4 linked regions of the Homo sapiens genome follow. The protein of the gene in region 1 binds, or shares a complex with, the protein of each later gene. Each region holds a gene or a part of one and is shown on either strand. Other genes may lie near its edges. The genes, in order: CALCRL, RAMP1, RAMP3 and GNB1. A codon is read from its position in the direction of its gene.

What was found.
Region 2: the proteins of CALCRL (region 1) and RAMP1 are in contact, whole or in part, in a cryo-EM structure (PDB 6E3Y), measured with the Homo sapiens proteins. Residues at the interface, in NP_001258680.1 of Homo sapiens: Asn39, Met42, Thr43, Gln45, Tyr46, Glu47, Tyr49, Gln50, Lys51, Ile52, Met53, Gln54, Thr68, Trp69, Asp70, Gly71, Arg113, Arg119, Thr120, Phe228, Leu231, Ile235, Thr239, Val243, Ala244, Gln250, Trp254, Tyr255, Leu258, Phe262; in NP_005846.1 of Homo sapiens: Trp59, Ile63, Tyr66, Arg67, Ala70, Phe83, Trp84, Pro85, Asp90, Phe93, Leu94, His97, Gly98, Phe101, Arg102, Cys104, Pro105, Ile106, Ser107, Gly108, Arg109, Ala110, Val111, Arg112, Asp113, Pro114, Ile118, Leu119, Phe122, Ile123.
Region 3: the proteins of CALCRL (region 1) and RAMP3 are in contact, whole or in part, in a cryo-EM structure (PDB 6UVA), measured with the Homo sapiens proteins. Residues at the interface, in NP_001258680.1 of Homo sapiens: Arg38, Asn39, Met42, Thr43, Gln45, Tyr46, Glu47, Tyr49, Gln50, Met53, Trp69, Asp70, Ser117, Arg119, Thr120, Phe228, Leu231, Ile235, His238, Thr239, Val243, Val245, Lys249, Gln250, His251, Trp254, Tyr255, Phe257, Leu258, Phe262; in NP_005847.1 of Homo sapiens: Trp56 (codon at 4,391), Cys57 (codon at 4,388), Leu59 (codon at 4,382), Phe62 (codon at 4,373), Ile63 (codon at 4,370), Tyr66, Glu67, Thr70, Cys82, Tyr83, Pro85, Asn86, Pro87, Leu88, Gln90, Ile93, Thr94, His97, Arg98, Cys104, Thr105, Val106, Asp107, Arg108, His110, Leu111, Glu112, Asp113, Pro114, Val118.
Region 4: the proteins of CALCRL (region 1) and GNB1 are in contact, whole or in part, in a cryo-EM structure (PDB 6UVA), measured with the Homo sapiens proteins. Residues at the interface, in NP_001258680.1 of Homo sapiens: Lys167, Ser168, Ile394, Arg397, Asn398, Gln401; in NP_001269468.1 of Homo sapiens: Arg52, Phe292, Ala309, His311, Asp312.

Annotation. Positions count from the first base shown.
Region 1 is NC_000002.12:187,341,456-187,347,271, forward strand, and holds the end of CALCRL (calcitonin gene-related peptide type 1 receptor precursor), read right to left. Parts: intron 4,945-5,816; coding exon 4,729-4,944; 3' UTR 509-4,728; downstream 1-508. UniProt on the Homo sapiens protein: G protein-coupled receptor which specificity is determined by its interaction with receptor-activity-modifying proteins (RAMPs). Together with RAMP1, form the receptor complex for calcitonin-gene-related peptides CALCA/CGRP1 and CALCB/CGRP2.
Region 2 is NC_000002.12:237,855,576-237,862,641, reverse strand, and holds the start of RAMP1 (receptor activity-modifying protein 1 isoform 1 precursor), read right to left. Parts: upstream 3,020-7,066; 5' UTR 2,967-3,019; coding exon 2,915-2,966; intron 2,746-2,914; exon of another isoform or gene 2,435-2,745; intron 1-2,434. UniProt on the Homo sapiens protein: Accessory protein that interacts with and modulates the function of G-protein coupled receptors including calcitonin gene-related peptide type 1 receptor (CALCRL) and calcitonin receptor (CALCR). Required for the transport of CALCRL to the plasma membrane.
Region 3 is NC_000007.14:45,174,780-45,181,806, reverse strand, and holds part of RAMP3 (receptor activity-modifying protein 3 precursor), read right to left. Parts: intron 4,499-7,027; coding exon 4,366-4,498; intron 1-4,365. UniProt on the Homo sapiens protein: Accessory protein that interacts with and modulates the function of G-protein coupled receptors including calcitonin gene-related peptide type 1 receptor (CALCRL), calcitonin receptor (CALCR) and G-protein coupled estrogen receptor 1 (GPER1).
Region 4 is NC_000001.11:1,790,067-1,797,093, forward strand, and holds part of GNB1 (guanine nucleotide-binding protein G(I)/G(S)/G(T) subunit beta-1), read right to left. Parts: intron 3,246-7,027; coding exon 3,179-3,245; intron 531-3,178; coding exon 329-530; intron 1-328. UniProt on the Homo sapiens protein: Guanine nucleotide-binding proteins (G proteins) are involved as a modulator or transducer in various transmembrane signaling systems.

The sequences.
Region 1 (5,816 bases):
AAAGAAAAAAATGTACTTAATAAATAATTGTTACCTTTTATGCATCAAAGGACACAATTAAGAAAGGGACAAGACAATTCACAGAATGGGAGAAAGTATTTGCAAATTATCTGAAAAGAGACCTATACATATATATTTGCAGATGTGAGTGTGTGAGACTATATATATATACATATTGATATATATATATATCAATAATAAAAAGACAACCAAATTAATAATGGACCAATAATCTGAATAAATATTCCTCCAAAAAAGATTACACATGGCCAATAGATGCTTGACATCTTTAACCATCAGAGAAATGAAAATTAAACTACCAGGTACCATTTCACATCCATTAGGATGTCTAAAATAAAAAAGACAGGTAATAACAAGTGTTGAGAAAAATGGAGAATTCAGAACCCTTCATACACTGCTGGTGGGAATGTAAAATGATCTGGCTGTTTTGCAAATGTCCTGAAAAGAAATGAAAACTTTTTTACAAACAAAAACTTGCAAACAAATGTTTATAGGTATATTATTTATAATAACCAAAAGGTAAAAGCAAAACAAACATATCCATCAACAGACAAATGAATAAATAAAATGTGGTATGTTCACCCAATGGAATAAAAGGAAACATTGATACATGCCAAAACATGAATGAATTTTAAAAACATAAGTGAAATCATTTAGTCACAAAAGGTCACATACTATATGATTACAATCATATGAAAGTCTAGAATAGGGAAATCTGTTGAGACAGAATGTAAATTAGTGATGTTTATAGCTGAAATGAAAGTAGAGATAGAGGGATAGAGAAGTGATGGCTAAAGGATACACTGTTTCTTCTCAAGGTCATAAAAATGTAATGAAATTGGTGATGGTAGCGTGTCTCTATGGATGTATTAAAATATACTCTACTAATATACTAAAAACTGCTTTGAATATGAAGTATTATATGATATGTCAAGTATATCTCAATGAAGCTGTTAAAAAGTGCACTATGGTTCTAGATTTGTAAAACCAACTTGAGGAGGTCTATATTGTAATTAACACTCTCATGTACCTATCTCAACAATAGGCCAAACCTTATTAAACTAGCAATATTTTTAATCAAGAATATTCTTTCTTTGAGATTAGTATAATCACAAGGAGGAGAGATTATAAGAAAAAAACACAAGTGTTTTAAATGGGCATTTTCTCCAGAAAACAGAAAATGATGTACATTATTATTGATCATAAAAATAAAAATTAGTTATTAAGTGGAATGCAACTGATTATTGCCCTAAGGATAGAGTGGTTTTGCACTTATTTATAAATTTATTTCAACATTTTTAATATTCTCATATAGTGTGATATTTTGAATTCTCCTTTGAATTTTTGTAACATCTTACTTGTTCCTTCATTAATTAATGAGTTAAACGAAATCTTTGAAACATTTTCATTTTATATTTGTGTGAGAGCCATGAATATGCCCTCTTTAAAAATTACCTTTAAATACTTATTTTTCTTTCTAATATTTAAACAAAACTACAAAATGAAATATAGTAGATAAAGGAGATGAATTTCTGAACATTTTCTTATTTTGAGACATCCTTTTTCTTCTTTCAGCATAAGAAGGAGTTTGCATCCATTGTAGTATAGTTGGATTTTTTTAGTTTGAAAAACAAATCATGACTTTTTCTTAATTGGTTTATTGAATTCATTTACTGGTTTACTGAAGACTTTAAAGAGGGCAAAAGATATATTTTGTTAAGAGATTTGTTAATTTTGAGAAGTATCCCATTGATTACTGTAAGAATTATGTTTATAAATTAGATTATTTGGCACTGTAGTAAATATCAGTGAAAATAAACTTTAACTCATAACTTTAATATTTTCATACAATCAAAAAATAGAGATATACTCTAGGCATAACATAAATTGTTATAATTGATCAGAATATCTTGAATATATTTTTACAGATAACTAGTGGTTTCTACTAGCAGATTAAAACCAAGAGAAAATTAAAAGTAAGTTCACATTTAAAAAAAATTATAAGCAATAAATACAGCACTACAGCCACCACTAATTCTATATACATTGGATTACATTTAAACAAACACTGCATTCCAGAATGAATATTTTATGAATAAATGCATTGGAAATTAACTTTAGGAAATAAAATGACAAATTAGAATTTAGAAAATTAAAATATGACTTTCACAAGTAATCACAGTAAAATGCAGATCTACATTTTAAAAGCTAGAAATTTCCCCAAATTTATTTTTTTGACAGCAAAGAAGTTTGCTTTAAAAAAAGTGTCAGATTTACTTTGCTTTATGAGTATGATACAAAGATATTAAGTAGCATTTAGCTTTTGAGAAATCTAACATTTAAAACTATTCTAAAAATATATGGGTACAAAACTAACAGTGATTAATCATGAATGACTGCTACGCCTCAAGACTCTACAACAGACAAACCCTGGCTATAAAATAAATCTGATCTAGAATTAATATTATAAAAGCACAACAAAAATACTTGAAAATTACATGTTTATTTTAATATAATCTCTGATCATTCAACATTTTTTACTGTCACTTCTACTGTCAAGATGGTTGAGAGTTGACAGTTTGTCTAGAAGAAGGCTGATATATGTCAACATGGTCAGCAAAGGATTTAAATATGGGTCTTTGAATAATAAATAGCTAATAATTGAGTTTATTAAAATGAATTTTTGTATAATTTAGGCAGTTGAAGGTCTAGAACAGCCTGCGTTCCTTTCTATGGCAGCTTGCTATGAAATTCATGTTTCAAACAAAACAATACTTTTTCATGCATAGATAAATTATAAATGTACTGACCAGACCATTCTATATGTTAATTCTTACGAATTTAGATAATTTGTCTTAGCAATTTGAAATAAGTTCTGAACTCACCATCTATTGACATATTGACAGCTTAAGAAACAACTTATGATGAGTAATTTGTTTCATCCATTTTAATCAGATTGACACACTTAAAAAACAGATACCCATGACTTTTCCCAAAATTGACTTTTACTAATTGAAGTCATTCTTGTTCTTTAGAGATTTCAGCGGAAAATAACATTAGAGAAACTGAATCCCATGCAAATTTCACTTTAATTCATTAGCAAGGTTTTCTTCTATCTTTATTTAATAAAGTCTGACAATAATTCAGTAAGATCTGACAATAATTTTTTCTCAATGATATATTCAAGTATTTCCCTAATTTGTATTATATACAGTAGCTCTATTAAAATATTAAAGCATTGTATATGGTATATATAGTATCCTTCTAGTTTTTTATATTTCTTGAATAGCCTGGGACATTTCCAAAGCTATATATCTTCACATAGTAAAAGTCAGTAAAGTAATATTTTAATGGGGTAAAATCTATAAAAGTAGCAGATTGGTATTTATCACAGTAGTTGTTTAAAATTTCTGGATTAGAATGTGAGTTCATTGTCAAAATGAAAAAAGAAATATGTCAAACACACCTATTATTAAGGTATGAGTTATCAAAACAAATATATTCAATAAAATAGTGACCTTGTGTTTTTAAAATAAATATATCTTATGATAGATGTTTCTGTTCTCTTAGTTCTCAAACAGACTTCTGATGCTGGCATCTGGTTGTCTTTAAAATATTTACCAAATATAGCATTCCAGACTCTATTTTATTTAAAAAATCAGCCCAGATACAGTATCAGATATTAACATACACACATTGTTGCATTATATATTTGCTTTAAAAATTACATAGGTTGTATGTATTTGATTTGAGACTATAAAATAAAATAATGGAGTATTTACAAGCTCATTTTTCACAATTTCTTTTTACAAAATTCCAAGAAAATAAGAAATCCTTCATTGATTTTCTTTATATAAAATGATTGCTAATTTGTTTATACAGTAGAAATGGAAGGGACAAAATTTATATTTACAGCTAGGAATTCCCTCCCACTGTTTGGTAAGACAGGAAGAGGTTGACAAGGTGTTTTGTAGCATCAACTAAGATGTTTTCCTAATGATATAGAAGTAGGATTGCATATTATACATCCTGTTCATCCAGTTTCCACAATGGATATGCCACAAGATATAACTGATGTGTCAGCAAATGAGTAGATCATAACAATTGTACTCAGTTGCTTTTCATAGAGAAAAGAAAGCCAGCAGGGATAATTCACTTCTGGTATTGTCCATTTGAGAGGGTAGTTACAAAAAGGACTACGGCACTCTGGGCAAAAAAAAAGTCAACTGCCCCAATCAAGATGGGATAAAGAGTTTTAAAACTAAAAGCTAATTTTCCCTTCATGTTTATAGACCTTAGCTAGGTCTCTTGGGGCAATAAGGGTAGAATCATGCCCAACATGTATGTTTAGTTTTACAGCCATTTGTTTGTGAATTCATGCAATGGTGTGCTGGAACTGGCTTACACCAGCTCAGAAAAGTTGATTGTGCTTTTCTCCAATTCCACACTTGGTGATGTCAGGTTAGTAGCGTCACATCAGGCATAGTGGGAGTATTTACTGACAAACATTACAAACCAGGATTTCTTTTTTCCCACATAGAGCTGGATGTTACACTCTTATCAACACACTACTAATTTCATGTGAAGGCTCTTCTTTATGACATTCAAAAAGTCATTTAATATTGAAGTCTTCTGGCTACAGAGTCATGGGTCCAAGTCCTTGAGTTAGGAGAAGCACAAAACAGTGAGACAACCATCCTTCTATTTTCAATTATATAAATTTTCTGGTTTTAAGAGAACATTTTCAATATCATGGATGCTTTTTCCATTTAAGTGTTCACTAGGACAGTCATGACTATAACCTGGACCATCACTGATTGTTGACACTGTGTAAGACGCACTACGAAGAGCTTCTGAGTTGGAAAAGCTGTTTCCAAATTGGATTTTGTATTGATTCCAGTTTCTTCTCAGAATTGCTTGAACCTATCAATCAAAAGGAAAACAGAAAGAACAAGAACAACCCATTAATTGAAATGAAGACACTGTTTTTGAAGCACAATTAAATAGGTCTTGGAGAAGAGCTTTTTTAAAAAAAGTTATGTTAATCAGTGAATAATATAGCTTCATTTTCTTAATTTAAAAAATTAAGTGTACCATCTTCACATTAGGAAATGTATTACAATTACATTGTACTTTACATTCCATTAATATTTTTCATGGCATGTTTTGTCTTCAAAGCTTTTATAATTCATATGTATTTATTGTTGCCAAACAAATAGGTAATCTGGACCCCCATTTACAAGATTTCATGTGCAACATTGAGTTTTATATTAATGTCTTTATTAATAGAATGAGAAGACAATTCGTGACAGGATAAGCGAAAGATACACAAAAGAAAAGAAGTTAGGATACGAAGAATACAAATCAGCAGCAGCAGCAGCAGGGCAGTAGCAGCAACCTTTGTTTCTGAGTGACTCCCATATGCCAGAAATTGTGCTACATTCTAAAAAAGGGAGCATGATATTTGTCTTCATGGAGCTTACTACATAGAGGAAAGAAAAGTGTTGAACAAATAATTATAAATCTGGTGAATATTGTGAAAAATAAATTTAGGAATGTAACCACTCCATTTTTATATATTTGAATCCTCTTCTGCTGAATAAATTTGCAGTTTAATGACTTCCTTCCCCTCTGTTTGAAGCTAGAGATCAGGGGTAGGTGGGTCCTATACAGTAAAATATTGGTCATAATGGAATGTAAGGCACAAGAGTGAATTTTCTTCATTGTCAGTCAATGGGCACAAATGAGAACATTTAAATACATCTCTAGCTCAAGTACGTTGAGGACTTTTCCAT
Region 2 (7,066 bases), about 51 Mb from region 1:
ATTTCCGCTGGAATTCACACTACACATGGCACCTGCATCACACAGTCAGCCAGACGCCAGTTGTAACTGATTAGAAGCTATGAAATGGGCGCATTCTGGGGAAAAAAATCAGGACAGACTTTTCCAACTAGCCTTAACTAAAGATTCCACCTAAAACATTTCCCGGAGCTGAATCTACCATTTGCACTGTGGATATAAATGTTTCTCAACAGCCCTGGCCTCGGACTGGTAATAAGCACGCTGACAGGCATGCGCCTGTGGAAGGAAGACAAAAATCCAGAAATTTCTTCCTGCAGCTAGACACACAGAGAGGGTAAACAAACACACTGAGTTGATTAACAAATAAGAATCCTTCAGATTTGGACTTTGGCATGAGAACTGTGTCCAGATTTAAAACCGCATGGCAATCTGAAGCAGTCACATAGCATTTCCTGTGATGTCCCTGTCATTCCAATTCTACTTGTATTTATATAAAGTCATACATTTCAATTAATGTTGCAGCCATTAAAAAAACCCCTGGCTCCCACGTGACAGCCAAGGAAGGCATGCGTTTCCTAGGACAGGTGACTGAGTTCATGTGTGACAGCACCAGCCAGCATTCCCTGAGTGAAGATGGACTCGAAAAACCAGGGGCTTCTAACGCATCCTTCTTTCCTGGTTAACGAACAGCTTTTCGGTGTCTATACACAAACTTTTCAGAATGCATGTAGAGTCTCCAGTAAACAGAAGAGTACACAGGATGCTCAGAGGGAAAAGAACTATATATGGATCCTAAGTTTTTTTTTTTTTTGAGACGGAGTTTCACTCTTATCACCCAGGCTGGAGTGCAGTGGCATGATCTCAGCTCACTGCAACCTCTGCCTTCTGAGTTCAAGCGATTCTCCTGCCTCAGCCTCCCAAGTAGCCGGGATTATAGGTGCCTGCCACCATGCCTGCCTAATTTTTTTTGTATTTTTAGTAGAGACGGGGTTTCACCATGTTGGCCAGGCTGGTCTTGAATTCCTCACCTCAGGCGATTCACCCACCTCAGCCTCCCAAAGTGCTGGGATTACAGGCGTGAGTCACCATGCCTGGCCGGATTATGAGATTCTTAATAACTACCTAAGACAAATAGCTTGATTGTAAAATTGTCACAGATAAGTTCTTAAACCTGTAAACTAGAGTACTTAAAAAAATTCCACATTGCCATTCTTGGTAGCAAAATCTTCATCACCAAGGAGACCTGGCTAGTGCTACAGCTTGGGAAGGAAACAGCCTGTGCTCAGTAATTCTACTAATTACAGCTGGGCTCCAATGACATTAATTTACTGATAACCTCATAAAGTTTTGTTTGTTCTTCCAAGAGATAACATTAGCCAGGCCACTCAAAATAACGTTAAAATTACAGGACTTTGGACTTTCGGCAGAACATGAATAGTTTTCTCGGTAAACAAGGAAGGTCTTTATATGTGATCGTGACATAGTGTTTTATTTACACAAGCTTTAGAGGGTTCAGCCTCTGGACACTAGTAAAGAACGTTTATTTATTTGGTTATTTATGTAAAAAATATTCCACAACCCAGCTCTCTGCCTTGCTAACAAAGAAATGTTTGTTTCTTAGTAAATGAAAACAGTGAAGGCCATGTCAAGCCAAATGGAGAGAATAAAATTACTGCGAGATTCTGCTTTCCACGTAACTTCAGCCAAAACTCTAAAGTGGCAAGATCCGCTTTCAGATTATATTATATCGGCCTCTGAGGATTCTATGCAGATCTGCCACCCCTTGGAGAGGTTTACAAATAGGGAACAGAAATCCATGGCTCCCAAGAAGCCCTGGCCCCTCTCCTCGCTGGGCCACGAACCACTCCCCCAGCTACAACAGCGCCGGTGGTCCCTGCTTGCCCAGTGCCAGCGCCAAAGAGGTCTTGTGCGGCAGGTGCCTCTGACCAACATCACTGTTTCCGGGGAAAGGCCACACATACCAGAAACAACTGCTCCGGCCTTCCCAGGGACACTGGGTTCTCCCACGCCAGTAACCTATTCACAGTTTCCGTTAAAAGGTAGCTAAATACACGGAATAATGCAATAGCCAAAGCGGTTTAGAAGGGGCTTGAGTTAGCATTTTAGGAACACATTACAGACAAGGGAAGTGAACAGCACCGTTTCTTGCCGAGTGTGTGGCCAGTTCCTGTGGCCATGAGGCTGCCGCTAATCTCCACTTCTCCCTCCAAGTGGAAAGCCAAACGTGTTCCACCACTTCACCAAGGGACCCGTCCTTCTTTAAATTTCTATTAGCCAAAAGTGCCAAGTTAACAAGCAAACCAAAAGAAAAAAGAAAAAAAGCGATGGAAGTGTCCCGAAAAGGGCTGGCCTCATTTCTGCAAAAGACGTGATTTGCAAACAAGCAACTGCTGCAGGCGACAGATTGTCAGTGTTGACTAATTTCCATACAAACCGGCTGTGGTTCTGATTCCCGAACACTGCGTCTTCTGCAAGGTGCCCGTCTGCAGGTTTTGCAACGCGGGACGGCCTAGGGAAGGGAGCCTGCGCTGGCAGTCACCGCGGCGCACAGCCTGAGAAACGAGGTGCGGGGCTGGGGAACCCCGCGTCCTGTTTTTCCTTCTGAAAACTAGTTCTCCAGTGTGCAGGGCTGACTCACCCCACGCTTTCCAGAATGCCCGCTCTCCGACGTCCCCAAAGCCGTCCCTTCCCCGGCGAGAAGCGCAACACCGGTCCGCGCCCTCCGCCTCCCCTGTGCCCTGGGGCCTCCCGCCTGGAACCGGGGCGGCCCGCGTTCAAGGGCAGCGGATCTGTGCGCCCGCGGCGCCCGCCCCCACCCGCTCCCACCCGCTCCCACCCGCTCCCCTCCTCTCCCCTAGAGGACACCGGCTGGCCAGGGGAAGGGAGCTCGGCCGGGACCCCTGGACCTACTCACCCAGGAGCAGCCAGAGGCCGCGCCGCGGGAGGCGGCACAGGGCCCGGGCCATGGTGCACAGCGGTGCCGAGTCGAGTCCGCTCGCCACGCGCCCCGCTGAGGACTGAGCCCGCCGCGGCGCGGGCCCGGAGGAGACGCGCCGGGGGCGGGAGCGGGCGCGGGAGCGGTGGGAGGCGGCGGCCGCGCGGCCCGGCCCACTGCGGCTCCCCGCGTGGGTGCCAGGGCCGGGGGCGCCCAGGGCCGGTAAAACTTTGCAGGGGGGCCGCGCGGGCGTCTCCAGGCCCCTCCCGGGGGGCGGCACACTTGGGGTCCCAGGAAGGCCTCCTGAAATGTTCTCCGAGCAAATAAACACTTTTTAAACTAGGGAGGGTCTCCTAGACGACTCAGCGTGAGGGGCACCTTGGTCTCCACCTGGGGATCTTCCCCTCCTCCTCCTCCGAGGTTCTGGGCGTTCCTGCCTGGTGTTTGCCTTGCAAAAGGCTAAGATCTCCCAGCCTTATCTACCTCTCCGCCCAGGTGCAGGCGCTGGGGAGCGTGGGGGGCAAAACTCGCCACCGCGCCTGGCGAGACCCGTAGTAACCCAAAATGGCGCACACTTACCAGGCCCTGGAATGCTGCTCCAGATCTGCAGGATGAGTGGGTGGGCAGAGGCGGGGACAGCACGGCAGGTGAACAGAAGCCGTGGGGCTGGAGGAACAGGGCTCTTTGGGGGGATTGAGATGGCCTGGGAGTCTTGCTGTTGATGGGTAGGTAGCGAGAGCCTGGCAGGAGGTTGTGAGGGCCTGGCCACAGAGTCTTGAGATGAGGTTTGCTTTGGTGGCACTCTGGCAGCTGCATGGAAAACTGATGGGGGATCTTGGGTACATTCGTTTATGTAAAGTGGTGAGAGGAGGGCGCTCTGGAGATGGGCCGGGGAAGCCTGCGGAGGAGCAGGTTTTGGGAGGCACAGGCCTGGCCTCTCGGCATTACTGGTGGCTGGATTTCACTTGCAGTGGTTCCTTCTTGTATTATCCTGTTCCGAGAACTCTTAGCAACAGTAAATTTATACTTGTGCTAAGGAATGCACCACTGCCCTTGGAGGGGGAAGAATCACCACCCTGGTGCTGCGGCCACAGCTGTCTCTTTTGTGGTGGAAGCTGCAAGCGCACAGCATTGCTGAGTGACCATCGTTTTCTCCTAGGAAAGGGAACAGTCTGTGGCTGAGAGGCTGCTGCCACCTGCAGTAAGCTCAGAGAAGGGGAGACAGCTGACAGCGAGGTCATCCACTGGTTCTTCTAACACAGGCTGGGAGGGCACTCAGGGCCAGCATGCCTACCACCTGTGCAGGGGCCCCAAGTGTTCTGAGAGTGAGGGGTGAGATGGTGGGGGAGGGCACACATTCTCTTGACTTGATTAGCCCTTGTTCTTGAACCCTAGGAGATACACCCCATTGGGTGGCCTGGCATCCCTACTTTCTTCATTTAACAGACATTTGTGTCCCTATGTGCAAGACACTGTTAGATCGACAAGCCCTGCCCTTCAATTGGTGAATCTAGGGGGTGACCTCTAAGACTCTCAATAACATGAGCGCCACAATACAGGAGCCACCCGGAACAAGGGACACTCGCCTCAGCTGCAGTGCAAGTAAGGAGACAAAGGATTCTGGACAAAATGCAGCCCAGGCAGTCCTGAGGGCTGGGTGGAGAGAAGGGCACAAGGGAAATGCAGGCCCGAGCACAGGCCTGGCAGCCAGAGGCCGTGCCATGTGAGAGCAGCACAGCTAGTGGGGAAGGGTGGCTGCCAGCACAGCCCTGGGACAGGGCCACCGTACATCCTGCACTAGGCGATGGCCAGTCATAGTGGGGGAGAAGAACCTGCATCTTTCTGCAGCCATCACTCGCCCTCCATATCCAGGGACTCTGGCTTGAGCCACCCTTTCTACTTGTAGCTTGTGGACTTTGGCTGCATGTTTTTGGTTGGCAACTGGGACTCCTCTTTCATCAGGCTCAGCAGGAGTCTTTCTTCCCAACGTTTTCTCTTTGAAGCTTGACTGCAAGGAGGCAAGGCCAGAGGCCCCTGTCACTGCTGTTTTCTCAACACCCCCTAAAGGATACATTTTCCTAAGAAGACAAAGCCTATTTCTCAAGTTCACATGCTTTAGAAATTCACAGTTCTCTGGAGAATGCTGAAGTAAGGCACACACCTAGAGGCATGTTCTCTCCTAATGATTTTCCTGTCTGTACCTTGGGTCTAAGTAAGACATTCCTTAGCAACTACTATGGGCTTCCCGTCTTCAAAAGTTGTAGTCTGATGTATCTGTATTTCTAATTGGTCATAGGTAGCATGGAAAATCATTCCTCTCCCAGGGTACCTCAATCTAGAGGGGCATTAGGTTAAACAATAGAAGAGATTAGAAAATGGCCAAGTGCTTTACTGCATACACAGTAGGGCTAAAGATACAATCAAAGCCTGGTCAACACTGCTAAAAATTCACTATTAACATAAGATTCCTGCTTCCAGCCGAGATGAAGTTACAGGGACTGGACTCACCTTCCCATCTTAAACTAAAAAACTGGACAAAATGTATGAAACAACAGTTGTCACAGTGGACCACAAGAAGTGCAGGGACCCCTGAGAGCAGGGAAACAAATAAGGTGAGTGCTACAACTGCTCACTGCCTGGAGTTTGCAGACCACAGATGGAGAAAGGAAACCCAAAGAGAGTCTGGGGAAGCCAGGCAGTTAACGCTGGCAGGGCATAGTACCAGAGAGGAAAGAGCTGCGCAAAGAATGCGCTTGCGAGATCACAGAGGGTCCCACTTGAGTCTCAGCCCACACATCTAAGGACACTACCCAAGGGAAAAGAGCCTAAGAGCCCACACCCAGCTGGGAATAGTTCCAGTTCCCACCAACCATAGTGGAAAAATCTTGAAATACACAGAACATCAGAGCATAATTAGAAGGGCAAGTCCCTCTCTGTAGTCAGTAAAAATTACAAAGGCTATTCTGGTGCTGCCTAACAAAACTTAAAAGCAAGAACTAACAGGAGCAAATGATTTCCAAGTAGCTATTACATCCCGTAACTTAAAAACAATAAAAGAACAAAGCATCAGAGAGCCATGAGGCAACTCCAGGTGGCAACTCTAAGGTGTAACTGGAGCCCCTGGAGGAAGATGGGTGGGAAATATGTGAAAAACCACTATGTGGAACATTTTCTATTAACCCATGAGCCAAGAACATCCCCAAACTCCAAGCACAAAAATCATTTAGAAAAATATGTGAAAGCACATCACGATCAAATTGCCTAAAGCCAGTAATAAAGAGAAAACCTTAAAAGCAGCCAGAGAGAGAAGACATTACGTATAGCAGGGGTCCCCCAACCCCACAGGAGTACCAGATCATGGCCTGTTAGGAACCTGGCCTCACAGCAGGAGGTGAGCAGCGGGTGAGCTAGTGAAGCTGAGGTCCGCATCTTGTTAGATCAGCAGTAGCTGATCTAACCCTACCGTGAACTGTTCATGCAAGGGATCTAGGTTGCACTTCTTATGAGAATGATGATCTGAGGTGGAACCGTTTCATCCCTAAACCATCCCCCTCTCACCCCATGGAAAAATTGTCTTCCACAAAACCAGTCCCTGGTGCCAAAAAGGCTAGGGACTGCTGATGTACAAAACACAGGTAAGGGTGACAGAAGAGTTCTCATGGGATATAATGCCACCAGAATACAATGGAACGTTTTTAAGTACTGGAAGGAAAAAAGCATCAAATATTCTACAGATAGTTTTTCAATAACTTGCTGATATGAAGGGGAAGACTCCACTGGTGTCCTCACTATCAGGCCTGCAATTTAAAGGCTGAACTTCAATCATTATCAATAATGAATCAGTGGTTCTGAAGATAACATGCTTATAAGCAATAACAACTTAGTTCTGTGAGTTGTTTAAATCGTGCAATTGCTGGATAAACACTAACAAAAACAGCAGTATCTCAGGGAACTCAGGTTCATCAACTATCAATTTTTCAAGTCCTGCAGGAAGTCCCACTGTTAAAACCAACACACTTGCAAGTAGCTGAGAACAGAAGTTGCCTATCTCCCCTATTCCCCCAAGAAACAAAACAAACAAAAAACAAGAAGTGAAAAATAAATTCTATATAAAACTGTCCTCAGCATTAC
Region 3 (7,027 bases), on another chromosome or scaffold:
CCTGGGCCTCAGCCACAATGCAGCACCTGAGACATGCCCAGGCATTAGAGACACCTCAACAGCTAGGTCCATGGACAAACCCTCATCTTCCCTGACCTGCTTCTCCCACAGGGCCTCAGATTCAGTAGCCTGCTGTCCACCCCAACCCCCCGCCAGCTGATCCAGGAGCTGGGGAGCCGTCTAACAACACCCTGCAACAGCCTTCACCTTCAGAAGTTCCCAGCATCTATGTGTGTGATGAGAATCACATGCGGTAACCTCTGTGCCTCCAAAGTCATTCCACTGAACTGCTACCCAGGAATGCCACCCCCCAACAACCATCCCCAGGGCTGAGATGAGCCAGACAGACCCTGGAGAAGACCCTCTGTGGACAGCGAGTCTACAGGGCAAGAGGAGTGATGTCTAGCCCCAGAACCGTCCCAAGAGGAGGTGAGGCAGGGCTGAAAGCCCCTGCTGTTCCCAAACCCCACTCCCAGCCAAAGCTAGGCCACATGGAGAAGCCCACGGAGCAGAGGTAATCCCAGAAGACAGCATGGACAGTGGCTTCAGGCTCAGGTTGCAGAGCCAACATGGCAGGGCCTCTCCAACTCCAGCTCAGCCACTCACCATCTTTGTGGTATGGGCCATGTCATTTATCCTCCCTGGACCTCAGTTTCCTCATCTGTAAGTGGGTTTAATAACACTTATCCTATCAGGTGGTTGAGAGAACCAAATGAGTTGAGGTCCATGTGCCCCAGCAAGTGCCTGGCACAGAGGAGGTCATGGGGTGAGCCCACCCCAGCTGTTAGGTTTGGGGCAGAGCTGAGCACAGCACCCATCTCTGTGGATCCACAAAATCTGCATTTTTGTCACATATCTAGAGAGGTCCACATTCAGTGCTTCTCTAGAAAACCGGGAACTACTTATGATTTATTCATCCCCTGGATAATCTGGGGCCTCTCCACTCCTCCTTCAGTCAGGCTCCCCAGAGCACTCTCCCTAAAAAAGATGCACCACAACCCAGGATGGGAAGGAGAGGAGCCCAGCAGGCTGGAAGCCGGGCAAACCCCCCAGTCAGACTCCCTCTCCCCCCACCCACCTCTGGGGTGTTTGCCCACCTTCCTTTATGTTTCACCACCTGAGTGTGTTCCCAGGCAATATAGTGTTGCATTTGGAAATCCCATAGCAATGCTCCTTAACTGGGTACAGAAGGAGCCCATTGCTGCTATTGGAGGGAGGTTCCCAGGAGAGGACACGCTCTGGTTGCCCCGAGGGGCAATGAGACTCCTCCCCAGGGAAGGCCACAGGCAGGCCATGGGCGAGTTTGGGGAATAGGGTCTTCCCAGCCATGACTCGACTCCTGATGGGGTCGTCATGTGGACCAGTCCTATTGAGGGGAGCAAGCCACCTCTCCTCTAAGCTCACCAAGGCCCACCCTGCTTCAGTGGGGACCAAAGCAGAATGAACATTCAGGGGAAAGAAAGGAGTGTCCTTCATTCTTGACTGAGCTGGGCTGCAGGGCATGGGCAGGCAGTCACCATGTCAGGTAAGCATCAAGTGCCCTCCACCTGGGCCAGGCTGCCTCCACCCAGGGTGTACTGCCACGCTGGGGCACCGCCCTCCCTGGGGCTTCCCTCTCCTGCCTTGGCTCCGCTCCCCAAATCTCATAGCTTCTTTTGTCGTGGTTTGCTCCACACCTTGGCGCACAGCCGCCAGAGCTTGAGAAAGGTATGTGGGAATCAGATGCTGGAGGTGCCACACGTCTGACAGTATTTTCGTTTCTCCCTAATTAGTGGACAAATTGGCGGGAAATAGCACACTAGCTGAGAAATCACAGTCCGAAATTCTCAGGTCCTTGCATCCCACAGTCCTCGGTTTCCAGGGCTGCGGTGGGGGAGCCTGAAGGCCTCTGATCCCCTCATCTCCAACCTAGAGCTCATTTTTTTCCTCCTTCTGGATAGGTGTAGAAGTTTTCCTTTGTTTCCACAGCTCTGATATTCCAGGGTCCATGTGGGACATTTTCCTCCCTCGTGCTAGTACCGGGCAAGCCCTCACCGGCTGCAAGCTCATGCCCTCAGCCCCTGGCAAGGGCCCTTTATCCTTCCATTCTCCTGTTCTCTTTCTAGAATTCCTACTATCTTGGTGTTACGCCTGGACTGACCACTGACCTCCTGATCATCTTCTCTGTCTCTCTCTCCTATTCCTGGGAGATTTCCTCAACATCTCCCTTCCAACCTTTCTATTCCATTTCACTTCTATTGCATCTTCCATTTCTAAACCTCTTTCTTTGTTCTCATTCATCACATGAGAGATAGTTGTTGCCCTCTGAAGATATCAGTCGTGACGTTTGCAGTTTTCTTCTTGGTGCATGGCCCCCGGGTTTGCTTGGTTCCATCTCTCTGGTCTCTGTCCTTCAGGGTCAGAGCCTTAGGTCAGATTTCCAGGGACCCTGCTTGGAAGTGACTCGTGACTGGGAGTGGGGACTGAGAGCTGATGAGACACTGGGACCCTGCAGAAGAGCTTGTCCCCAGAGCTTCCAGGGGTTGGGGGGGTCACTGCTTCTAGGTCCTTCCTCTTGGCTGGTCTCACTCCTCAGAAAGGACAGCTCCAATCCTACCCTAGACCACCCTCCTGGACCCAGTGGCAAAAGATAATGCGTATCAGCCGCTCTCTCCAGCCTCCCTCTCTGGGACACTGTGCCACGTTCTCAATTACATGGGAAGGCCCAGAAACCCTGGTGTCACCAGCTCCAAGAATACACCTCCAGTGTCCAGCTGGGGTGGAGGAGGGCTCTGGACACCTCACTGCTTCTCAGCTACTCTTGCCACTCTCTTGGGAGCTGGTGCTGCCGGCCGGGTCGTGGGAGGGCTCCGCAATGTCAACCTGGCTGTTCCCAGCTCCCCTTTTCCAGCATCAGGTCTGACTTCACCAAGGGCACTCAGTCAGTGGCTCTTGCCCACTCACTCACTGGCTCCTAAATGCCCATCGGGTTGCCTCCACTCCTGTCCTCCCAATCCACGGCTGGACATCTCTATTTAGTCTCTTTACCAAGGCTTTAGCGGGTTACAGAGAGGAGCAAGACCAGAAGCTACGAAGCTATGACCTCCTCTTCCCTGACTCCACCCCCACCAGTGGGTCCATTCCAGGCCTGTGTCCAGGCTCACTGAGGACCAGGAGGAGCCTGCAAAACCCCTTCCTGAATCCCAGCACCCCTTCCCAGCAGACTCAGAATTCCATTCCACTTGGTTCAGCAAGCAGTTCCCCCACAGAGTGGGGCTGCAGATGTGACAGCCTCAAGAAGCCCCCATCTGCTGGGCCACTAGAATGGCCAGGGCCGGGGAGGCTTCCTGGGGCAGGGCCATGGTCAGTGTCTCTACGGAAGACAGGGGCTGGGGTGCTAACATGCAAAAGCATGAGGCCAGCACATTTAGGGTCTGGCAGCAGCCACCAGGGGGTGGCACAAGACTGCAAAGCCAGAGGTGGAGTGGGGTGGGGCAGAGGACTGTGAGGCCATGAGCAATTTCCAAGGAGGTAAGGAGATGAAAAGCTTGGGAAGCTTCTAGAACAAGGGGACCTCCCTTCACTATGAGGTGTTGTCCACAATTACACCTGATATAAACCATTGGAACCCAATTCCTCTAAGTCCTCTGACCACTGAGGACAGACCCAGCCATGACTGGTGCTGTAAGAAAGACACATGACAATGTCCACCCAGCTCCAGCTGTAAGGAGAGGTGGAGCACCCTCCAGGCAAGGCATCCCCCAGGCCAGGGCACCCCCTGGGGTAGGGCAGCACCCACCCCTGGGAGAGTGCACCCCCCAGGCCAGGCCACCCGCAAACTGGACACTCCCCGGGCAGGGCACCCTCCAGGCAGAGCACCTCCCAGACAGGGCACCCCCAGGCCAGGGAACCCCCGAACTGGACACTCCCAGGGCAGGGCACTAATCTGGATCAGGAGGAAAAGCAGGCATGGGGAGGATTCCTAAATAACAGAGGAGAGGGAGAAGCAGAGGCACAGTGTAGAATTGCTAGAACATCAGAGTGAGGATGCGGAATGGGGGGTAGGAAGCTGGGAACCCGCTGTGGGTGTGGGGAGCACAAATGCCGTGGGCAGGGGCACGGCATGGGCGGGGCCGTGAGTGATGTGCCAGGGGGATGTGGGTGGGGTGGCCAGAGCCAAGAGCAGAGTGTGAATAGGAGCGTGGTTGGGGCCCTGGGCAAAGTGTGGGGCAGCACATGAAAGGGCTGTGGGTGGCCTACGGTGGGTTGTGGGTGAGGCATGGGTGAGGCCTTGGGTAGAGTGCGGTCAGGCTGTGGTCAGGCAGTGGTTGGGCAGTGGGCAGCGCTGTGGTCAGAGCAAATCCCACGCCCAGCAGTGGCACTCACACGATGAACTCGGACAGGTTGCACCACTTCCAGACGTCCACCTTGCCCATCATGTCTGCGAAAGCCTTCCCACACAGGGGCAGCCTCTCCAACATGCCTGTCTCGTTGCAGCCGCCTGCTCTGGGACACCCACCTGGAGAGGGGACAGCCATAAGAATTCCACTACAGTTCACACTGGGGATGCCAGGACAGGGGAGGCCCAAGGGGCCATAACTTGAGTACTCACTAGCAAGGCTCCGTTTGCAAGCCTGAGACCGTTCCAGCGGAGTCCTTCACCCTCCACCCTGACCTACCTGTCAGTGCAGAAAGGAGGCTCCACACAGGGACCTGTCCCCAAGACAGGACAAGTCCACCTTTTCACTTCACCGCCTCACAGGCAGTGGCACAGGCAGGGATCAGGCAGTGAGACCCTGGGCCAAACTCCTTGGGAGGTGGTGAGAGGGTCTCAGGCAGATCAGGGCTGGCAAAGAGGCTCCAGTTCCAGCTTAGGAGTCCCAGGGGCCTGGGAACATCCTGAGGACTCTAAGACCTGGGGACCATCCCACTGCCTGCAGGGGCGGCAGAGGAGGGCTCCAGGCCAGTAAAGACCAACCCCTCCCGGTCAAAGACCCCCTCCAATTCTGGGAAACCAGGGGCTGAGGCCACTGCAGGGACTCATGTTCCCAGCAATGGGAATGAGTCCTTTGGACTTTCTCAGGGTCTGACACAAGCTGCTTGTCCCAGGATTTCCCCACTGCCCTTCCCAACCTCTGCCCACCAAAACATCCCCTCCCCTTCCTCCTCATGCCTTTGCTCCACACATTTCCCCATGGGGAACATCCTCCCTCCCACTGAGCAATGCCCCCTGTCCTTCAGGGCCTGTCTCCACGGTCATCCCATTTCCAGACGACAGGACCTCCCTGCTCCTAAACTTCCCTCACCTGACCTCTGCTTTGGTGCTCATCATATACTCAAGAGAGACCCCAGGCATATGTGTCTCGGGTGTGTGTGTGTGTGTGCACGCACAGCCCTGCTGTCTGTGTCTTGGTGTGTGTGTGTGTGTGTGTGTGTGTGTAGGTACACAGCCCTGCCATCTATATCTTAGTGCATATGTGTATGCATACATGAGCATGTGTGTACACAGCCCTGTCATCTGTGTTCCGGCGGCTGGTGCTGGGCTAGAGGAAATACCATGAAGAAGCAGATAAGAAAATGGTTCCAGATTGACATGGGACAGACCTGGCTCACACCCACACTTCACTGGTTACCAGCTCAACCTCAGTTTCCCCATCCGCAAGATGAGGGATACAGGCCCCACCTCACAAGGAGGTTGAGCTGGCTAACTTAGTCTGAAATGCTCAGTGCCACCTCCAGGAACGTATCATTCATTCATTCCCTCAATAAGTCTTGGCTGAATGATAGAGAAAGCAGTGAGCATTTCAGAGTCTGATCTTCTTCCATGTGTGGCTCACCCTGGGCACTGAGCAAGTGCTGAATAAGTCACTTTAATATGGAAATGGCAGGTTTAGACAGGACCACTTTCTGGTGCAGGGACCTGCTCCACCAGAACACAGCGCCCCAGACACTCCTCAAGAGTCATAGCCTGCTTAATGCTAACATTAGGGAAGACCCTGGAAGCCCCTTGGTTGAACAAGCGTCTGATGCCAGCAAAAGGGAGTGGCTTGTCTAAGGCCAAAGGAAGGCTGGAGGGGTCCAGATCCCAGGGTTAAGGGAACTGTCATGCTCAGCCCACCCCCACCTGCAGCAGAACACCTGGAGCACATACAGAGGACAGGTGTTAGCTGGAACCCCACAGAGGAGAACACAAAAGGGCTTGCCAGCTGTTCAGGGTCGTGGGTTCCCAGACTCAAGGCACCTTCTTCCCTTCGTGACTGCCCAAACCTATACCTCAGAATCCAGGCTGACAGCACTGAGAAGGGCCCCTGGGGGTCACAGCTGGTAAAGTTGGACAGAGGACTTGCAGGTCCCAGCAGGTGGTCTGAGAAGCCTGTGTAGGCACTCACATCTCCCCTTCTGTCCATGCAAGCTTCCCCAGGACCCAGGGCATCTTGAGGCCCCAGAGAACCCTGGAGATGGGAAGCACACAGGCTGTGGCTCAGTGGTCAGCCTGCTGCCATGTGTAAGCAGATGGCAAGGACACAGGCTGGGTGAAGTCACCACCATGGCCCCTGGACACAGGGTCAGTGACTGGCTCTCCCAGAACAGGTGTTTCAGGGCCTTCTGGCCACTCTGCATGGTTTCCAGCACCTGGAATGTCCCTGACCCCCACGTTCGCTTGTCTCATCAGCACAGCTGCAGGCCTGGATTCTCTGAAAGGCCACACATCCCACTTAGGGCCCCAACCCCTGAGTGAGCCTCTGGGGTGCTCACCTCTCTTCACAGAAAGGCCATGTGCTCATTCTGTGTCTGTCCCATCCCTGCATGTAGCACAGGTCCCCCACATGGTCCCACAGGGTCTGCACATGGAGATGGTGGCTCAGTACCCACTGTCAACCCAGTGAAATTTATCCAAAGATTTAGCAAAACATCCTGGACCACCGCTATCATGTGTTGCGGACTGTGTTGGATCCTTGGACAAGGGGAGAGGGAGAGGGTCTGGTTCCTGTCTTCAGGACCTGCCATCTGGGTTCCAGGGGGCAAGAGGAAGACACAGGGATCTCAG
Region 4 (7,027 bases), on another chromosome or scaffold:
CTGGTTAGCTGTGCCCCTGACCAGTAAGGCTCTGTAACCACTGGTGGCCTGAGTTATCTTACTGTCTTTCCCCTCCAGGATCCCAACCACTGCTCAGCTGTAGAGGTGGGAACGGGGACTGGCATACAACACCCTGTGAGTATCTGTGAGACAAGTGGTCAACACAGAGAAGTTTCCCATCGGGAGTTTTCTGTATCCCCATCTGTACATGAGGTTGTATAAGGATCAGAAAGGAGAACATCTAATCCAGAAAAGTTTAAAATTTAGCAATCTGAACGGCTAGCAGAGACGGCAGAGGACCCGACCCCACACCTCCACCCAGACTCACGCAAATGGCATTGATGTCAGACTCGTGGCCAGTGAAGGTCTGCCGGCACATGCCTTCTCGCACATCCCAGAGTTTGGCTGAAGCATCACAAGCACCAGAGACGAACAGTCTGGTGTCAGGAGCAAGAGAAAGGCTCATGACATCTCCAGTGTGTCCGGTAAACGTGGTCGTCTGCTGGCCGGTCTCGATGTCCCACAGGGCACTGGAGCAGGAGCGAATGACAAGGGGACATCAGCCTTAACTTCTTGGGTGGCTAGTCATGTGACAGACAATCTGTCCTTCAAACCACCCAGGGCCACAGTGAGCCTCTGCACTGTTACTTTAAAAACGTAAATTGTTTAAAGACAAATTTAAATGTAATACAACTTTGGAAGGGAAACAAAGCAAAGCAAGCAAAATTATACAGAGATGAGCACAGGGCCTGGGCTTCAGAATGACGGGATCGCTACCTCAACTCAAATGCCAGCAAACAGGGAGCTGGGGGCACTTTTCAAGCAGCACCACTGAGGCTGTGCCCCCTCTTTGGTCATGGATGGGCATGGAAGGGGTGGCAGGAAGCTACGTGGAGGCCCTGGATGGCGGAGGGGACGCGACTCTATCTGTGGCTGCTCCCTCTGTGCCCTCCCTTGGCCTCCCCTCCACAGGGTCTCAGAAAAGGCAGGCAGGAGAAGGCCAATGCCAGGTAAACAAATGGCTCACAGCAATTCTGAGGTCCTCCTGCCCTTTCCTGGAATCACAAACAGGAGAGCAGCTGAGTTCTCAGTGATCACACCTGGTATTTTTTTTTTTTTTTTGAGACCGAATTTCACTCTTGTTGCCCAGGCTGGAGTGCAATGGCGCGATCTTGGCTCACCACAACCTCCGCCTCCCGAGTTCAAGCGATTCTCCTGCCTCAGCCTCTCCAGTAGCTGGGATTACAGGCATGCGCCACCATGCCCGGCTAATTTTGTTTGTATTTTTAGTAGAGACGGGGTTTCTCCATATTGGTCAGACTGGTCTCGAACTCCTGACCTCAGGTGATCCGCCCGCCTCGGCCTCCCAAAGTGCTGGGATTACAGGCATGAGCCACCGCGCCCGGCCATACCTGGTATTCTATCACATTTCTGCTTAACAAGCTGTCAAAAGGTGAGACGCTGACAGAGCCCTGCACAGAGCAGAAGCCTGGCTCAGGTGTAAGGACAGCTGTGAGGGCCACACGCCCACCAACATACTATTCTCCTGTGCCTCGACCCATGGAAGGCAACACCAGAGAGCACTGTCCGTTCATGTCAGCCTCAGAGGAAAGCCTGGCTGGGCCTGGCAATGCAAATCCAATCAGCCAATCTCAACAGACACTGCACAGGGAGCCTCCTCTCTAGGGCCTGAGGGACTGACTGCAGAAGGGAAGCAAGATACGTAAAAGAGTCTGAAAAAAATGATTAATGAACAGAAGCACTTTAAAAATATCTTCTAATAAATAAAGTCTTCTCAAGATTGACAATCTAGGTGACAAATCTTTTGTAAATCTATGAAATTTATACAACGAGGACACCTTATAATACCACAGATGCTTTGCTGACAAGTTGGTTAAGGGCCCATGTCTCGGTGAACCCCACCAACTGCGTGACTAGGGGTCTGTGCCCTGGGCTGGGCACAGCTCCTGCCACCAAATCATGCCTCAGAAGACCAGAAAAACCCACATGGCCAGCTGAAGTCTAAAATGACTCTCATAAAATAACTATCTGGACATTTAATTTAGTACTTTGATGCCACAAATGAAAAAATTCTAGCATTTAAGTGGGCTTCCGTTTACCTGTAAGGTGAAAACACTAAAAATGAAGTCTGATGGAATCACTTGAATTGTGACGTCTGTTATTTTTAGTCTGTGCTCATTGTTCACAATGACATGATGCTATCAGAAAGGGACAATCAAAACCCACCCTACTCCCACCTATCATCACCTAAGGAGGTACAAATATATAGAGGGGAAAAAAAAGAAGAGCAGGTACTTTGAGCCTGATTGTAGTTAAAATATCTATGTTGGCCAGGCATGGGGGCTCACACCTGTAATCCCAGCACTTTCAGAGGCTGACGCAGGCAGATCACGAGGTCAACGGATAAGAGACCATCCTGGCCAACGTGGTGAAATCCCGTCTCTACTGAAAATACAAAAATTAGCTGGGTGTGGTGGCGCACACCTGTAGTTCCCAGCTACTCGGGAGGCTGAGAGGGGAGAATTGCTTGAATCTGGGAGGCAGAGGTTGCAATGAGCCGAGATCACGCCACTCCACTCTAGCCTGGAGACAGAGAGAGACTCTATCTCAAAAAAAAAAAAAAAAAGAAAAAAATGTGTATTTTAGTTCTCAGCTGCTGAAAATTAAACTTTGTAAATTTATTAGAAGTATAATGAGGCTAGGCACGGAGGCTCACGCCTGTAATCCCAGCACTTTGGGAGGCCGAGGTGGGCAGGTCACCTGAGGTCAGGAGTTCAGGACCAGCCTGGCCAATGTGGTGAAACCTGGTCTCTACTAAAAATACAAAAATTAGTCAGGCGTGGTGGCGGGCACCTGTAATCCCAGCTATTCAGGAGGATGAGGCAGGAGAATCATTTAAACCCGGCAGGCAGATGTCGCAGAGCCAAGATTGAGCCATTGTACTCCAGCCTGGGTGACAAGAACAAAACTCCATCTCAAAAAAAAAAAAAGTATAATGAATTCACACATTGCTACTATGTGTTTTAAATCTTAAGGCCACTTAAATTACAGATGGCCTAATATTATGTCAAGAACCTTATTTCCTCCATGTTCACAGAGGAATGTGCCAGGGGCTGTGGGTTCTCAAGGCACTGCCTGCCCCGGGTCAGGTACTTACCACGTGGTGTCTCCAGAGCTGGTGACGATCTGATTGTCATCCAGGAATCGGCAGCAGGACAGGTAACCTGGCAAAGAACAGGCCTAAGTGATGAGCTGAATCCAGCAGGCCTTGCACCCAGCCTCATACATAGAGAAACACATTGGCCCGGTGGAAGCTCTACGTCTAAGGTAAGACCAGCACCATGCTAGTGACCTTTTATTCCCATCTGTGCACACAGCAGAAGGTCCACACGCACTGCTGGTGAGGGTGAGAGCCTGGCCAGGCAGGACAGCACGTCCCACAGAGACCCACAGCTCCGTGATGGGGGCAGAAGCAGAAACCACACCCATGAAACATACACATCTTTCATCTGCTTTACTGTTTGACCCATCAAAGGCTGGGGATCCCTCGTCTATTTACTCATTCAGGGCACGCTGACTCCAGTGCCCAGGAAGCAGCCTTAACCAGACAGACACCTCCTGCTCTCCTACAGCCCACGCTCAGCAGGGACAGAGAATGAGAATCACTGAAAGAGGACATCAGAAAGGGAGTGCTAGGGGAAGGAAGAGGACAAAGTAGGGGCCTCACAAGATGGAAGCCAGGAGAGGAGGGAGGACGAGAGTAGACTCAGAGAAGGAGGATCCAAACAGAGGGCCCAGCCAGGGCAGGAGGCGGCGAGGCCACAGGGTCAGGGTGGCAAGGGCCTGCAGGTCATGGAAGGGATAACGAAGGCAACAGGAACGCGGCATGGCAGCAACACTGCAGACACGGGGGTGCTCGTGAATATGTGTGGGTGGGTTTGTTTTCTTGGGGACAGTGGCTGTGACACCCACATCAGCGTGGGCACAATTCTGTGTCTCTGAGTATTCCCACCCACTCCCACTGGGAAGGAAGCATCAGAGGCGAGAGCAGGACACACCAAGATGCCCCGTCCTAAACAACTTCCAAAATGAGGAAAAGCAACAACAAAAAATCAGTCCGCAATATCCACACATGATGACTGGTCTCTACTAAAAATACAAAAATTAAGCGTGGTGGCGGGCACCTGTAATCCCAGCTACTCAGGAGGGTGAGGCAGGAGAATCATTTGAACCCGGCAGTTCAAGTTGTTAATGACTTCTGTTGACCATTATTTCTTTTGTACATTGATCACAGTTCTGGTATTTACTGTGGAACTAAAAGCATAGGGTCAACAAACCAGTTAGTGTGTGCCCAGGATTGGTGACAGACTGGCCCTAATCTGAAGATTCAGGGGTTCCAGTGGCACTGGTGATTCTTGGGATACCTGTTTAGATTTGAGTGTTTACTGAAAAGCCTTCCCCCCAACTACACCCCAGGGAGTCATGCGACACTGCGTGAATCAGCAAACAACAAAAATAAAATGCACCAAAAGAAGAAACCCACTGGGGTTTTAATGTAGAAAGTGTAAGATTACAGAGAAAACAAAGCATTTATTTAACAAACATTATTATCACTATTTTTTGAGACAGAGTCTCGTGCTGTCGCCAGGCTGGAGTGCAGTGATGTGATCTCGGCTCACCGCAACCTCCACCTCCCAGGTCAAGCGATTCTCCTGCCTCAGCCTCCCAAGTAGCTGGGACTACAGGTGCACGCCACCACACACAGCTAATTTTTGTATTTTTAGTAGAGATGGGGTTTCACCATGTTGGTCAGGATGGTCTTGATCTCTTGACCTTGTGATCCACCCACCTCGGCTTCCCAAAGTGCTAGGATTACAGGCGTGAGCCACCATGCCTGGCCAACAAACATTATTAAACTGGCTCTGACAGAAGAAAAATATGCATAGATGACAGAGCTCAAAATATTAACTACGTGCCTACGAAAGTATGCGTGGTCAAATACTTCCTGGAGGCCACACCACAGGGACACTAGGGACCACAAAGGTGAACCCAAGTCCAGCTCAGAGGAGGATAGCCCTGCATACCTGGCGCCCCCTGTAGTGCCCTGCAGCTTGCTGTCGTGCCCCGCAGCTCACTGTCATGCTCCCGGGTCTCCACCCGAGCCCTCCTCCACTGGCTTCCTGGTTCACACTCACCCTTGCTTCAGGGAAGCACCCCCACCCCGTCAGATGCCCATCCAGACCAGGCCACCGAGCCTTGTAGCACTTAGCCTGTTTGAATGTGAGCACAGAAGGGCAGGAAAGAAGAGTCATGGAGACCTCAGCACAGCCTGCATCTCACACAGGGGACCAGGCGGAGGCACTCCCAAGTTTACTGCATGAAAGAATCATGACCTTGGCTGGACGCGGTGGCTCATGACTGTAATCCCAGCACTTGGGGAGGCTGAGGTCAGGAGTTTGAGACCAGCCTGGCCAACATGGTGAAACCCCGTCTCTACTAAAAATATAAAAATTAGCCAGCTGTGGTGGTGGGTGCTGGGTCTGTAATCCCAGCTACTCGAGAGGCTGAGGCAGGAGAATCGCTTGAACCCAGGAGGCAGAGGTTGCAGTGAGCCGAGTTCACAGCGGTGCACTCCAGCCTGGGCAACAGAGTGAGACTCTGCCTCAAAAAAACAAAAAACATGACCTCATAGGTCTCAAAGATGACCTCTCTGTCCCACCCTGTGCAGGCTGTAGTGAAGCTACACAGAATCCATCAGCTTCTTACTCCAAGAACCAGAGACTGAACCCTAAAATCACAGCTCTCAAGCGCTGATAAAATGATGTGGACAAGCATCAGCTGACAGGAACTATGAAGGACAAGGGGAATGACCGAATGTATAAGCCACACATGGCCCCTGACTTACAATTTTGTGACTTTATGATGGTTTGAAAGACACACGCATTTAATAGGAAAACCATGCTCCAAGTACCCATACAACTATTCTGTGTTTTCATTTTCAGGAGTGTCCAATAATTTACATGAGATGTTCAACTTTTTCTTATAAGATATGTATTATGTTAGATGGTTCTGCCCAACCAGAGGCCACTCTAAGTGTCTGTGCATGTTCAGGTTGGGGGGTGAGGTGTGTCCAGTGCGGCTGGAGAGCAGGATGGGTGGTGCAATGCCCAGGGTGCAAGCATACTCCATGAGGCCCAGTCTGTGAACAGAGACCAGGTCTAACCCCTTCTTCCAGGAAAGCCTCGTAGGGCCTTCTGGCCAAGAGGCCACGAGTGGTGAAGACTGCAGACTCTGAAATCAGAAATACCTGGGCTCCACTGTCAGCATGGCAGCTGAGGAAGAGTGAAAATTCCTCTAAGTTCTTTTAGAAGTCCCAGCCTCCCCATGTAACTGGGGAACTGATGGGAGGAGCAGAGCTGTCTGTGCACATAAGAAGTTCTCAGTAAATGGAGACAGTTACTATTTCTGTTATTATTGAATTTGAACAAATTCCCTGGGTATGTGTGGGGGGACACTTCAGGTGAAAACACGCCCCTCCTCCCCTGGTGCGGGGGCCTGTGCTGCCACCCTCTGGAAGCCTGCAGAGGGGCAGGGAAAACAGACCCTGAACAAAAGTGTGCACCCAGTGAGGAGGTGCAAGGGCACAAAGGTGGCACCAAGTGCCTCAAGGAGAGGCTGAAACGCGGCCTGGGGACCTCGCAGTGGTCTGGTCATATAGGCAGTGGGTGTGAAGGGCTGTCCTGTGTCTCATAGGGACCACTGGCTATAGGGACAAGGCTGTTAAAGTCCAGGAGAGAGGGGGTGGCTTGAAGAGAGGCACGGCAGAGAGTGGAAGCGTAGGAGAAAGATGGGCTCCTGGGCATGTGGTGTCAGCAGAGGTGCCTCAAGGATAGAGTGAGTCCAGAGTCTAGAAAGGAGCAGATCACCAGGCTCTGGGAAGAGCACAGCATGGGTGCACACACTGCTCTACCCAGCATGGCTGCCGACCCAAAGACAGCAAAGCCAA